Regions from separate parts of the Homo sapiens genome. Here all the other regions are reported to be linked to region 2. The links are microRNA targets in miRTarBase. Many come from high-throughput screens and were not tested one by one. Region 2 holds a microRNA gene; each other region holds the end of a gene's coding sequence.

Region 1 (3,000 bases), not on the chromosome of region 2:
GAGGCTGAGGCAGGAGAATCACTTGAACTCGGGAGTTGGAGGTTGCAGTGAGCTGAGATCATGCCATTACACTCTAGCCTGGGCAACAGGGTGAGACTCCATCTCAAAAAAAAGAAAAGAAAAGAAAAAAAAAAAGACAAATACGTATCTACTGAGGCCCTACTGTGTTCACTGGGTTAGGCGCTGGGGCTCCTGTGGGGAAGGAAACAGGCAGTTGTCTTTGCCTGCATGGAGTAAAGTCTAGCAGTGGGTTCCAGCATGGCAAACCACCTTTCCTGTTCTTTTCCTTCTCAGGGTCCCCTCCTAACCGCAAGCGTCCTGCTAACGAGAAGGCAACTGATGACTATCATTATGAGAAGTTCAAGAAAATGAATAGGCGGTACTGAGTTGTGCAGAGTGGGATGTAAATATCGCCTTCCTCTCCCTATATCCCTCCCATGAAAAATGGCTTCCTGGCCGGGCGTGGTGGCTCCTGCCTGTAATCCCAGCACTTTGGGAGGCCGAGGTGGGCGGATCACCTGAGGTCGGGAGTTTGAGACCAGCCTGACCAACATGGAGAAACCCAGTCTCTACTGAAAATACAGAAAAGTTAGCCAGGCGTGGTGGCACATGCCTGTAATCCCAGCTGCTCAGGAGGCTGAGGCAGGAGAATTGCTTGAACCCAAGAGGCGGAGGTTGTGGTGAGCCGAGATTGCACCTTTGTACTCCAGCCTGGGCAACGAGCAAAAAACTCTGTCTCAAAAAAAAAAAAAAAAAAAAAAAAGAAAAAGAAAAATGGCTTCCAGGACAGAGCATGCTCATTTGCTGGCGGACAGTTCCAGAAACAGACCCTGTTAGTCCTTCTACTTACCTGCTGGATTTTTCAAGCACTAAATTTATAACTTTTTGAAACAAAATAATGTGTAATTTTCCATTTGGGGGCAAACTCTATTCTTGTGAGCATTATTAAATCTTGTTTGTAAATATATTGTCTTTCTCTTAATATTTGCTCTGGGTCAGGAAGAAGCTGTTCACGGTGTGATAATACTCTTTAGATTGTGCTTTCATTATTATAGATGCATCATGTCTTCTGCTTTCACGTGTCTGGGATGGGGTCAGAAATGCATCCTCCAGCTGACAGAAAAATCCAGGATGAGATCAGAAGGATACTGGTGTTTTCTGACTTTTACAAAATTACTTGTTTGTTTTCATTAAAAAAAAAGCATAAACTATGTTTCTTATTACTATTAGAATTATTAAATTTCAAAATGAATCCAACCTTATTGTTTGTATTATGTTTCTTATACCAGCATCAGGTAATGTTTTTAAAGCCCATGGTTTGGGTAGCCTAAATGTAAAACTGAATTACTGAGATGGATTTTCTCATTTATTTCAAACAGTGAGCTATGATTGGACCACTGCAGCATAGACATGCTGCAACCTGCTGTCAAGTACCTTCTTACCTGTGCCCTCATTTTTCCTGAGGCATCCACAGGGGTCCAAAAGAGGAAAGAGCAGATTGGCTGACTTCTGGGTGGATTTAGAGCAGGTATTGTGGTTACAGTGGTTTGGCCCAGGAGTCAGATCTGAGCCCACCTCGCAGCTTACTACTTGTGTCCTTGGACAGATCCTTTTCACTCTTAGCCTCAGTTTTCTCATCTGTAAAATGGAGATTTTTTTTTTTCCTCCACTTGAATATGGTCAGTGAAGGCAGGAACCATGTGTGCCTAATTTTTAAATTTGAATCCCCAGGGCATAGCCCATAATCTGACAGATAGGCAGTCCTCAAAACTATGAATGATCCCTATAGTGTTTGGCTTGTAACAGGTGCACAAAAGTATTTTAAATCCAATACGAAAAAGTCGAAACTTAAAAAATATTTTCAGGATATTTCAACAAACATTTACAGGTCCCAGCGATGTGCAGGGGTAACCCAAGATGAATACTAAAGGCCTAGCACATCTGGCACACAGCAACGCAACACGTGTTTATGGGATGAACAGGCAAATAAGTGGATGGTCAACAGTTCTCACTTGCCAGAGTTCCCTTTGCTAGAAAATGAGTAATCTTTTATCCAGCTTAAAAGTGGCTGCCAGATGGAGGGAGCTGGTTCTCTCACTGTTGGGGTGGGAATTCACAGATAAACAAGGGGAGGAGGCTCCAATGATCTGTGTAATGGATTAGAGTTGGAGATGTCAGCACGAGCTCATGTTTAGCTTAATATAGGTACAGATGTTTACCTATAAAAATATTTATAGATATGTGTGTGTTTAACAGTATATACACACATTTTTTTCTGTCAGCTGAGACTGAAAGAAATGACATCTCAATAGCAAGAAGCACACCTAGCACCCAGACCTTGGTTTCTCTTTTTTTTTTTTTTTTTTTTTTTTGATACGAAGTCTCGCTCTGTCACCCAGGCTGGAGTGCAGTGGTGCGATCTCGGCTCACTGCAACCTCCACCTCCCAAGTTCAAGGAATTCTCCTGTTTCAGCCTCCCATGTAGCTGAGACTACAGGCACACGCAACCATGCCTAGCTAATTTTTTTGTATTTTCAGTAGAGATGGGGTTTCACCATATTGGTCAGGCTGGTCCCAAACTCCTGACCTCAGGTGATGCACCTGCCTCAGCCTCCCAAAATGCTGGATTACAGGCATGAGCCACCATGCCCAGCCAGTTTCTAATGCCATTTTACAATGAAAGGAATCAGGGTTCCTCGTAGAAAATAGGATTCTAGGACTGGGGCAGGAAATACAAGATGAGCCCGGAGTATCCTGTAGTGTCAGAAAGGAAAGAGGCACTCAAACCCAAATAAGCTGGTATATACACTGGGTGTATGTCAAAGGAGCACAAGGAACCACTCAAATTCCCAGTGGCCAAAATGAGAACAATTTGAAAAAAAAATTAGTACTGTAGTATAACAAAGGATAAAATAACAATGGTCCACACTGATATAAATGATTGAATACATGGGGGAGAAGAAACAAATCTCCCATGCAGAATTCCAAATAATTTCTGTA
Region 2 (4,449 bases):
GCTTTTTCCCTAGAAACTCTCCCACCTGCGACAACTGATTCTAAGGCGGTGACCCAGCGCTGTTTGTCAGGGAAGCTGGGAGCTAGCAAGTAGAGGGTTCTCCCGGGCCAGCAGGTGGTGTGCGGGTGAGATTCCATCTTCAGTATGTATGGGACATCTAGGAGATTTCAGAGAGCACAGGATTGGGTGTGGATTTCCCCCGTTCCCACTGGGAGGGACGGGCCTGAGAGATCAAAGATGCCCACCAAACCACGCAAATCCCAGTTACCGCCAAGGCGGGGAGCGGAGGAAGATGGGCCTCCTTTGCAGAGCCAATCTTCCCTGTACCACCCCTTCTGTCCCTGCTGATTGGCCAAGCCCGGCCCACCTCCAGGGCGGGGCTCCTCCGGCTCCTCCTCACCTGCTTTGGCTGTATTTGCGAGTTCGGAAGCACCAACGGCACCATGAATAGATACATCCCCGTCGGGAAGGCACAGCTCAAATTCTTCCACCGGCCTCTGTCCAGCTTGGTGCAAAGAGGAAGGGCAGAAAGAAAAACAAAAGAACAGGAACAAGAACAAGGGGAGAAGAGAGAGCGAGAGAGACAGCAAGGGAGAGAGAGACAGGGTACGTGTGTAAAGAGAGGCGCACGAGAACAAGGAAGGGACAGAGGTGTGCAGAGAAGGCAGAGAGGGAAGATAAAAAAAAATAAAGTGTGTCAGATGAGTAGCACAGTCAAATTTCTGATGACGATGCGGATTTATGGGTTAGTTGACTGAGGCAGAAGTTCTCGGAAGGTGTATTAGCAGGTGGAATCTTCAGGGCAGCGCCCTGCGGGTTCTTCAGGGGGGAGACCTATAGATGTGAGTATCGCACCAATAACCTTTAGAGAAGTCATTTGGTTTGTAAGTTTCAAAAATGGAAAAGCGTAGAAGGCTTGCAAGGCAGTCCAAAAAACAAAGCCTTCGCGCCAGCACTGGGGAGACCTGGGTTAGCCACGTGCAATGACCTTCCCCCTGAATTATTAATTTACCTTCTCTGGCTTCATTGTCATAAATGAGGACTTTTGATCCCTCCAGGACAATGTACTTCCTGTCCCAGCCTTGCTGTCCTCGTTTGTTATTCCTGGGGAAAGAAAGATGGAAAAGAAAAATGTCTGAACTCAGAAGAAACATCCGGCTGGAGGATAGGATGAGGGGGTGGCAGAGTTCCTAGAAAAGACACTTCCCTAGAAAACATCAGGGACAGAGTGGCTTGTGCCAGCACCTGCTCCAGCCCAAGCCACCCTGACATGGTACCTGGGCACCTTCATCCACCCTTCCAGGTGCAAGCTGCTGCTGGGCTCCTTGGTCTGGAGACCTGGGGAGTTCATTTTGTCACGGCAGAAGGCCTCGGTGAAGTGTGTGGCATATTCAGCAGGCAAGCCGCAGGTGGCTGGCAAGCACGTGGAGCACTTGGGGTGACACATCACCTGACATTCTAGGGAAGAACAGTGAGCAACCTGAGGGCATGCTCAGCTGACCCTGGACCCTTCCCTTCCTCTGCCAGCCAACGCCTGGGCTTCTCTACCCCAGCCGGGCCCAGAGAGTCTGGCCCTGGCTTGCAGGTAGTCTCCTGAGCTTCCCCTGGTGCCAGGCCCCTGCAGAAAGGGAAAACAAAAGTGCCAAGTGCTCTTGACCCAGTTTTCCAGGCTTCAATCCAGACCGCCCACAAACAGGTGTGTAAAGAACACGTTTGCATGTTTCAGTTGGAGTCAGCGGAAAGGTAGGGAGAGACCAGCCTGACAAAAAGGGGCTGGAAATTAGCAAAGCCTAAGGCACTCTGAGCAGCAGGCTGGAGTCATGAGCTGCAGACATATATAAACTCACAGCTTCAACAGGGGAAAAATAGCATCCTCCTACTGAAGTAAGAAGCTCGAAAATGAATGCACTATATGATGAGTTAGAAAAAAATCACCTCCACCTGATAGACTTTTTAAGCTGGAGATGCACAGGTGCCCAGCACAGATGCACAACTACTGATCTTACCGAGACATTTGGATGCCTGGCGTCCAAAGTGCACGGTATCCAGACACACAGCACACTTTGTGGCTCGCATGTTCAGTCCTACGTTGAATCGGTGAGGAATATTGTGGTGCATGCGTTCCTTAAGACGCCGACTAAATTCTGGAGGAAAATGTTTTAAAAAATCATTAGAGTACTGCAAATGATCCCATCAGGAAAGTGAAAAGACAACCCACAGAAAGGGAAAAAATACTTGCAAATCAAATCTCTGATAAGGGACTCATATCTAGAATACATAAAGAACTCTTACAACTCAATAATAAAAGGACAACCCAATTTTAAAATGGGCCAAGAATTTAAATAGACACCTCCCCGAAGAGGATAAATGGCCAACGAGCAAATGAAAAGATGCTCAACATTATCAGTCGTTAGAGAGATGTGAATCAAAACCCCAAGCAGACACCACTTCACAACCACTAGGATGTCTACAGTCTAAAAAAAGGAAGATAAGTGTTGATGAGGATGTGGAGAAACTGGAACCCTCACACATTCCTGGTGAGAATGTAAAAATGGTGCAGCCACTTTGGAACTCAGTCTGGTAGTTCTGTAAAAGGTTAAACATAGTTACCCCAGAACCCAGCAATTCCGCTCCTGGCTATATATCCAAGGGGACTGAAAACATATGTACCCACAAAAATCTGTACATAAATGTTCACAGCAGCATAATTTATGACAACTACAAAGTGAAAACAACACAAATGTCCACCAATGGTGATATGGTTTGGCTGTGTCCCCACCCAAATCTCATCTTGAATTGCAGCTGCCATAATTCCCATGTGTTGGGAGGGACTTGGTGGGAGATAACTGAATCATGCGGGTGGTTTCCCCCATACTGTTCTTGTGGTAGTGAATAAGATCTGATAGTTTTATAAGGGGAAACCCCTCTCGCTTGGTTCTTATTCTCTTTTGTCACCGCCACATGAGACATGCCTTTTGCCTTCCACCATGATTGTGAGGCCTCCCCAGCCACATGGAACTGTGAGTCTATTACACCTCTTTTTCTTTATAAATTACCCAGTCTTGGGCATGTCTTTATCAGCAGTGTGAAAATGGACTAATGAAAATGGATTAATGGATAATCAGATGTGCCATCTACACAATGGAGTATTATTCAGCCATGAAAGGAATGAAGTTCTGATACATGCTACAACATGGGTGAACCTTGAAAACATTACATTCCATGAAAGAAGCCAGACACAAAGGCCGCATGCAGTATGATTCATCTTTATGAAATGTCTAAGAGAGCAGATCGACAGAGACAGAAAGTAGATTGGTGGTTGCTAAGAAGAACATTAGTGGAAGGAGAATGGCGGGGGACTGATAATGTGTATGGAGTATTTTTTGGGTGGGGGGGTGTCAAAATTGTTCAAAAATTAGAATGTGATGAGGGTTACACAACCCTGTAAACTTACTGAAAAAGACTGAATTGTACATTTTTAATGAGCGAACTGTACGGTATGCAAATTACATCTGAATGAAACTGTTAAAACCATTAGAACAGGTTAGTTACAGATTTTGAAAGTATTAACACTAACAGATGCATCTAGATTTATAAGACTCAACTTAAAATCTCCATTATCCAGTGATTAGGAATCAGGCTTTAAGAACATGTTACTGGTAGGAGATTGACTGACTATACGGTAGGCTCTCCTTACAACATCACCCCCCTTCCTTTCTTGGAAAGGTGCAAGGAATAAATAACAGGAATGCACTTTGAAACTGTGTGGTGCAGTATACACAAAGGAGCAATATACTGTAGTACTATCACTATTCAGGGACATTTCAGTGGACACCACAGCCAGAAGCAATGCTTTCCTCTATCTTGTCATCACCATTTTAATGAGTTTAAAAGTAAAGCTCTTGGGCTGGGCACAGTGGCTCAAACCTGTAATGCCAGCACTCTGGGAGGCCAAGGCAAGTGGATCGCTTGAGGTCAGGAGTTCAAGACCAGCCTGGCCAACATGGTGAAACCCTATCTCTACTAAAAATAAAAATATTAGCCAGGCATGGTGGCGCATGCCTATAATCCCAGCTACTCAGGAAGCTGAGGCATGAGAATCGCTTGAGCCTGGGAGGCAGAGGTTGCAGTGAGCCAAGATCACACCACTGCTCTCCAAGCCTGGGCGACAGAGCGAGACTCTGTCTCAAAAAAAAAAAAAAAAAAAAAAAAAAAAAAAAAAAAGTAAAGCTCTTTGATTCAAGGAGTTATATAAACACAGGAGGAAGAAAATGACTTCAGGCTAAAGAAAAACAACAGCAACAAGAAAACACCATCTGGTTTACAACCAAAACAGGTTTGATTGCAATGCCATGATTGCTAAACCACAGCTCTACCCTAGTGTTCCTAAGACATTCCAAACAGCTTCCTTGGCCTTTTCTTAAGTCCTTTTAATCTCTAGGTAAATGG
Region 3 (3,000 bases), not on the chromosome of region 2:
ATGAGGAAAGGACCTTCTGGCACAAGATCTCGTATTGCCCTTGCCTCGTTCTCTTCTATCCAGTGCTCATCATGGCCATGGCTTCTTCCCTCGGCCTCTACGCTGCTGTGGTCCAGCTCTCGTGGTCCTGGGAAGCATGGTGGCAAGCTGCCCGGGACATGGAGAAAGGCTTCTGTGGCTGGCTCTGCAGCAAGCTGGGTCTGGAGGACTGTTCTCCCTACAGCATTGTGGAGTTGCTTGAATCCGACAATATCTCAAGCACTCTCTCCAACAAGGACCCCATCCAAGAAGTAGAAACCTCCACGGTCTAAACTCCCAACAACTTACTCCCTCCTCTGGCCCCAGTAGCCTATATATCATCTTAAAATTCCAGCAGATTATTTCTTTAAATTACCCCCTACTCTCCGCAGTTCTTCTGGGAAATCAGAGTCCATACTGATCAGTTTTACCATCTTGAGGGTTCCAGGAGGGCATGGAGCAGACAAGCAATTGTGCCAAAGCAGTTCACCCAATGGACAAACTCTTTTTGATTCCCTGCCCTAAAATCACCATTTATTTAGGACAATGGAACTCTGCTGTGTGTCGTTTTGGGAGCCTGGAAGTGTTACTGGTGCCTGGAACTGAGGGGAGTATGTGACTAAATGTGTCAGGGAGAATAAAGAACCTCGGGGTAACCAAATCCACCAAGATAATAGACAGGGATGGAGTGAGACATTTAGGAAGCTGGACTACCACAGTGTAGCAGAAGGTAAAGATTTGTGTGTATCATTTAGATTTAGATTTAGCTGCATAGAATTAAAACCCTAAAATATCAGTGGCTTAAACAAGATAGAAGTGTATTTCTTTCTTGTGCAGAAGAAGTCTGGAGGCAGACCATCCTGGGACCCTGTGAAGTAATCCAGGTCCCAGGCTTCTTCTATTTCTCTACCATTAGTAGGATGTGACCCTTCTCACCCTTATCCCCAACATCCCAGTGCTGATTACATCTTCAGCCATCACATCCATGTTTCTGATAAAATAGAGGAAAGGGCAGAGAAGCACACACCCTTCCTGTTCAAGGAGACTTCCCAGAAGTCCCACTCGATTCTTCTTATATCTCATTGGCAAGACCTCAGTCACATGATGTCATGAGCAAAAGAGGCTGGAAATGTAGTTGTTTGGCTGGGTAGCTATATTCTCAGCTAAATACTGGGTTCACGCTAATTGGCAAGAAAAAGGAAGAATGGTTATTTGGGTTTTGTTTTGTTTTGTTTTGTTTCGCTTTAGAGACGGAGTCTCACTCTGTTGCCGAGGCTGGAGTGCAGTGGCACTATCTCGGCTCACTGCAACCTTCGCCTCCTGGGTTCAAGCAATTCTTGTGCCTTGGCCTCCCCAGTAGCTGGGATTACAGGTGCGTGCCACCATACCCGGCTAATTTTTGTATTTTTTTTTTAGTAGAGATGGGGTTTCACCATGTGCCCAGGCTGGTCTTGAACTCCTGACCTCAGGTGATCCGCCTGCCTCGGCCTCCCAAAATGCTGGGATTGTAGGCAAGAATGGTTATCTTGGTAGGCAAGTCAGAATCTTTGCCTCACAATGATCATTTAAATACATTCAGAACCCCCAAACTGCTAATATGGTTTTATTTATTTATTTATTCATTCATTTGTTTATTCATTTATTTATTTAGGCCTGAATCTTACACAGAGAATTTATATATAGATATTAGCTACATATACTTTGAATATGCTATACATCGATATTAGCACCTCACGTACTTTGCAATTAAGCTTCTGTAATGTCATGTGATTTGTTTTTGGAAAGGAATAGTGGACAGGAGAGTACAATTTATAATAGTAGCATAACTCTTTGTCCTGGTGGTGGAGGTGGGACGAGGTGGTGATATTTAACCTAGATTAAAGACCAGGAAGGGAGGAATTGCATCTGCCAAAGTTTCCTCCAACAGCGATCAGTAGCCCTAAGTACAAAGAAGCCAGATTTAGCCTTCTGTTGTTTGGCAAAACCTCACTCAGAGCTTTACTCCCTCAGACCTTTCTGAGTTTAACCACAGACATGATCTTTGCTGTGCTGAGAAACTTGTGTCTACCTGGCCTGTAGGGAGTGTAAACTAGATTAATACAGATTAACAGACTCTGAACTTAAAAAAAAAAATCACTCCTAAGGGTGTCCTTCTAATTTCAAAATATCAACTCCTAAGAGGTCAGCAGAATTTGGAGATTTGGGTCCTTATAAGAATAGCTGGTGCTCTTTTCTTGTTCATGTCTCAAAACAAAGCTGTTGAGAGAACTGCTGCGATGAATCAAACCAGAGGAGTTTGTCATGCTCCCCACAGAGAGCCCAGGACATTTGCCTGATGTATGGTGCTGAGCTCCACCTTCAGAGGAACTCTCTCTTTTTTTTTTTTTTAAATAACTATTATTAGCTTGACAAGAAAAAAAAAGTGCCCAACAGTTTTAGTGTTAATCTTGGTGCTCTATGGTGCATTAGCAGAGATATGAACAATTAAATGAAGACAAAGAAAATAAAAATAAAGTCTGATTAACTTTTGCTCATTTTGTCTTTGAGGCTCTTCAAAATTGCTTTGAATGCTATGGTTTGCAGAAAAAGGGTGAGCATGATGGCTGTCCTATATGTATGTAATGATTTTAATATGAATCCTTGTGTCTGGACTCTTTCCATGCTTCACTAATTTTGGGGAATTCTATTTAGGTGGACTGTTTTCACAAACCACACTAGAAACTTGCAACCACATTTGTCCCATTTTTCTGGGGTTGGGGAAACCAATGGGAAAAGCCAAAAAGTTGTGATTAGGACACAGGTAAAGTGGCTGTGGTGCCATGGAAGAGTGTGGGATGATGATGAGATCATACCCAAGAGATACCTAGATAAAGTTGACATGGCCTTCATCCTAGTTGGGCTCATCATCTAGTGGAAGAAATAGGCTTGTAAATTAAAACCATTTCAAAGGGGTTCTATAGAGGTATGTAAAAGCCTAGACTA
Region 4 (3,000 bases), not on the chromosome of region 2:
GGGATATATCCAGATATATATTTATTTTTATTTACCCTACTCTGACTTCAGTTTGTTCCTTCAATCTGGGGAGTTGAAGTCTGTGGAAGTCTTTATGGAAAATTTTCAGCCATTATCTCTTTGGTTATTGCTTCTTGTTCATTCTCTATGTATGTCCTCCGTCTGAGACTCCCAAGGACTTATCTGTCTTTTTCTTTGAGACAGGGTCTCTTGCTCTGTCACCAAGGCTGGAGTGCAGTGGCACGATCACTGCAGCCTCCAACTCCTGGGCTCAAATGATCCTCTCACCTCAGCCTCCTGAATAGCTGGAACTACAAGCATGAGCCACTACACCCAGCTTATTTTTTTATTATTTTTTTTAAGAGGCAGGGTCTTGCTGTTAGGCTGGTCTCAAACTCCTGGCCTCAAGTGATCCTCCTGCCTTAGCCTCCCAAAATGCTGGGATTACAGGCATAAGCCACCACACCCAGTCTTCCAGTGACCTTTTTTTTTTTTTTTTTCCGAGACGGAGTCTCGCTCTGTAGCCCAGGCTGGAGTGCAGTGGTGCAATCTCGGCTCACTGCAAGCTCCGCCTCCTGGGTTCACGCCATTCTCTTGCCTCAGCCTCCCTAGTAGCTGGGACTACAGGCGCCCGCCACCACGCCCAGCTAATTTTTTTTTGTATTTTTAGTAGAGATGGGGTTTCACTGTGTTAGCCAGGATGGTCTCGATCTCCTGACCCTGTGACCCGCCCGTCTCAGCCTCCCAAAGTGCTGGGATTACAGGCGTGAGCCACCACACCCAGCCTTCCAGTGACTTTTAACTACCCTGTAATATTTTCCATCCTTTTGTCTCTCAGTGTTACATTATAAGTGATTTCTTAGATATAGCTTCCAGTTCATTAATCTTTAAATTGTGTTTAATCTGCTGTTTAGCTTATCCATTATTTTTTCATTCCAATGGCTGTGTGTGTGTGTGTGTGTGTGTGTGTATATATAAAATATACTTTATTTTTTTAACAGAAGCCATGGTTTGTTTTTTTCTTTTTGACGGATTCTCACTCTGTTACCCACGCTGGAGTGCAGTGGTGCGATCTCGACTCACTGCAACCTCTGCCTCCTGGGCTCAAGTGATCCTCCCACCTCAGCCTGTAGAATACCTGGGACCACAGATGCAAGCACCACCACGCCTGGCTAATTTTTGTATTTTTAGTAGAGACAGGGTTTCACCATGTTGCCCAGGCTGGTCTCGAATTCCTGAGCTCAAGCAACCCACCCACCTTGGCCTCCCAAAGTGCTGGGATTCCAGGCATGAGCCATGCGCCTGGCCTGTTGGGTTACTTTTTAAATCTTCCGGTTCTCTCTTCATACTATCCTGTTACTGCATGTTGATCTCTCTTCCCCTTTTAGCCGTCTTTTATTTGCATGTATCTTGTGGTCTCTTAGGCGGCTGTATTATGTACACTGAGATGCCAGTCCTCTTGTTTTTGTCTCTGTCTCGTCTCCTTCATGGTGGTTTCTTTACTTTTATAATCAGTATGGTTTTTTTGTTTTGTTTTTGAGACGGAGTCTCGATCTGTTGCTCAGGCTGGGGTGCAATGGTGTGATCTCAGCTCACTGCAGCTCCACCTCCCGGGCTCAAGCGATTCTCCTGCCTCAACCTCCGAGTAGCTGAGATTACAGGTGCATGCTACCTCGCCCAGTTAATTTTTGTATTTTTAGTAGAGATGGGGTTTCACCATGTTGGTCAGGCTGGCCTCAAACTCCTGACCTCAGGTAATTCACCCGCCTCAGCCTCCCAAAGTGCTGGGATTACAGGCGTGAGCCACCACTCCCAGCCCAATAATCTGTAATTTTTATCACAAGTTCCCCTTTGGGAGCGGCAGGGTTTTTTTCCAGTTTTTCACACCCTGGAGAGAGACTACACGCCTGCTTGAAGGGCAGGCCCTGGAGTTCCAGGCTCTTTAGGGCAGCTGTTTCCACTCTGGGCCCTGAACATCTGTATCCTTGCCACTTTCTATGACTGGTCAGTGCAGACAGATTAATATCTTAGCCTTTGGAGACCCTGGAATATATCCGGGGGGTTTGTTTCTTGCTCCCCAGACTCATATGGTTCTTCTGTCACTCATGGTTGTAGGAGTCCAGGCGGCCAAGCCTCCATCCAGATCTGAAACCCCCACAGCGTCAGCTCCCTCTTACAACCCCAGCTTTGATTTCTTTGTCTTTGATACATGGAGCCATCCCTTTCTTTCTTTCAAGCTCACTTTTTTTACACTTGGGTTTTTTGGTTTTTTGTTTGTTTTTTTGTCTTTTATTTTTCCTTTTTGTGGAGAATGGGGTCTCAGTATATTGCCCAGGCAGGTCTTGCACTCCTGGGCTCAAGCTATCCTCCCGCTTCTGCCCCCTGACAGCTGGGCTTACAGGTGTGAGCCACTGCACCCGGCTCAAGTTCATTAAAAAAAAAAAAAATTATAAACATAAGTAGTGGAAGGGGTCCAGCCATCCTCTCCATTCATCATGCCACTGGGGGGTCCCCACTGAATGCTGCCAGTGCCAGGGAACTCCCTACCTCCCAGAGGTCTGGAGAGACCCAAATCTTGCTCACACTGAGGAACGGTGGGCAGCTGAGAGCAGGTCTTCTCCAGGCAGCTTGAGTAGGAGGAGGTAAGGATGAGGGTGGGCAGGTAACATAACAAGCCAACATTGAGGCCAGGTGTTTTCAGGGATAGAAGTAGTCTGGGGGCTGCTGGGTCTCCATCTCCATCCTGGAGGCTCCTGGGGGAGGCCTGCAGCCTGGGTCTGGCTGGTGTCTGGGGCCGCAGGGGCAACAGATATTCCCTCCTGGAGCCTCAGTGGCGGGAGAGCATCATCACAAACTCTGCGGGAGAGAAGGGCAGGGCTTGGGTCAGTCCACGTCAGGGATCCCAGGAGGTGCTGGGCTCAGCCTAGGCCCTGGAAGCACGGGAGGGTTTTCCGGGAAGGAGACTCACCGTCAAAGTCTACGGTGCCATCCCCATTGAGG

What was found. Region 2 holds the annotated microRNA hsa-miR-1178-3p (UUGCUCACUGUUCUUCCCUAG, at 1,459-1,479, opposite strand). A microRNA usually pairs through its seed, bases 2 to 8, with sites in the 3' UTR of a target mRNA and lowers its output. Matches are read on the target gene's strand: a 7mer-m8 pairs with bases 2 to 8, a 7mer-A1 pairs with bases 2 to 7 and ends in A, and an 8mer does both.
Region 1: the mRNA of C9orf78 is a reported target of hsa-miR-1178-3p. Seed matches in the 3' UTR shown: 7mer-m8 at 936-942.
Region 3: miRTarBase lists TMEM169 as a target of hsa-miR-1178-3p. Seed matches in the 3' UTR shown: 7mer-A1 at 1,129-1,135.
Region 4: miRTarBase lists CABP4 as a target of hsa-miR-1178-3p. Seed matches in the 3' UTR shown: 8mer at 2,576-2,583 and 7mer-A1 at 1,558-1,564.

Annotation. Positions count from the first base shown.
Region 1 is chr9:129,825,547-129,828,546 of GRCh38, reverse strand. C9orf78 (chromosome 9 open reading frame 78) reads left to right here. Exons shown (of 9, transcript NM_016520.3): 9 at 295-1,257. The coding sequence ends at 386. Among named protein-coding and RNA genes, the nearest start is that of TOR1A, 2.9 kb to the right of the region's middle. RefSeq lists a silencer at 203-497.
Region 2 is chr12:119,712,191-119,716,639 of GRCh38, forward strand. MIR1178 (microRNA 1178) reads right to left here and starts at 1,534; the gene lies at 1,444-1,534. It overlaps CIT (citron rho-interacting serine/threonine kinase), which reads right to left. Exons shown (of 48, transcript NM_001206999.2): 33 at 2,007-2,144; 34 at 1,278-1,458; 35 at 1,013-1,104; 36 at 401-505; 37 at 1-157.
Region 3 is chr2:216,100,232-216,103,231 of GRCh38, forward strand. TMEM169 (transmembrane protein 169) reads left to right here. Exons shown (of 3, transcript NM_001142311.2): 3 at 1-2,552. The coding sequence ends at 311. Among named protein-coding and RNA genes, the nearest start is that of XRCC5, 7.6 kb to the right of the region's middle.
Region 4 is chr11:67,458,487-67,461,486 of GRCh38, reverse strand. CABP4 (calcium binding protein 4) reads right to left here. Exons shown (of 6, transcript NM_145200.5): 5 at 2,969-3,000; 6 at 1-2,856. The coding sequence ends at 2,828. Among named protein-coding and RNA genes, the nearest start is that of CABP4, 4.6 kb to the right of the region's middle. RefSeq lists enhancers at 1,256-1,305, 1,516-1,565.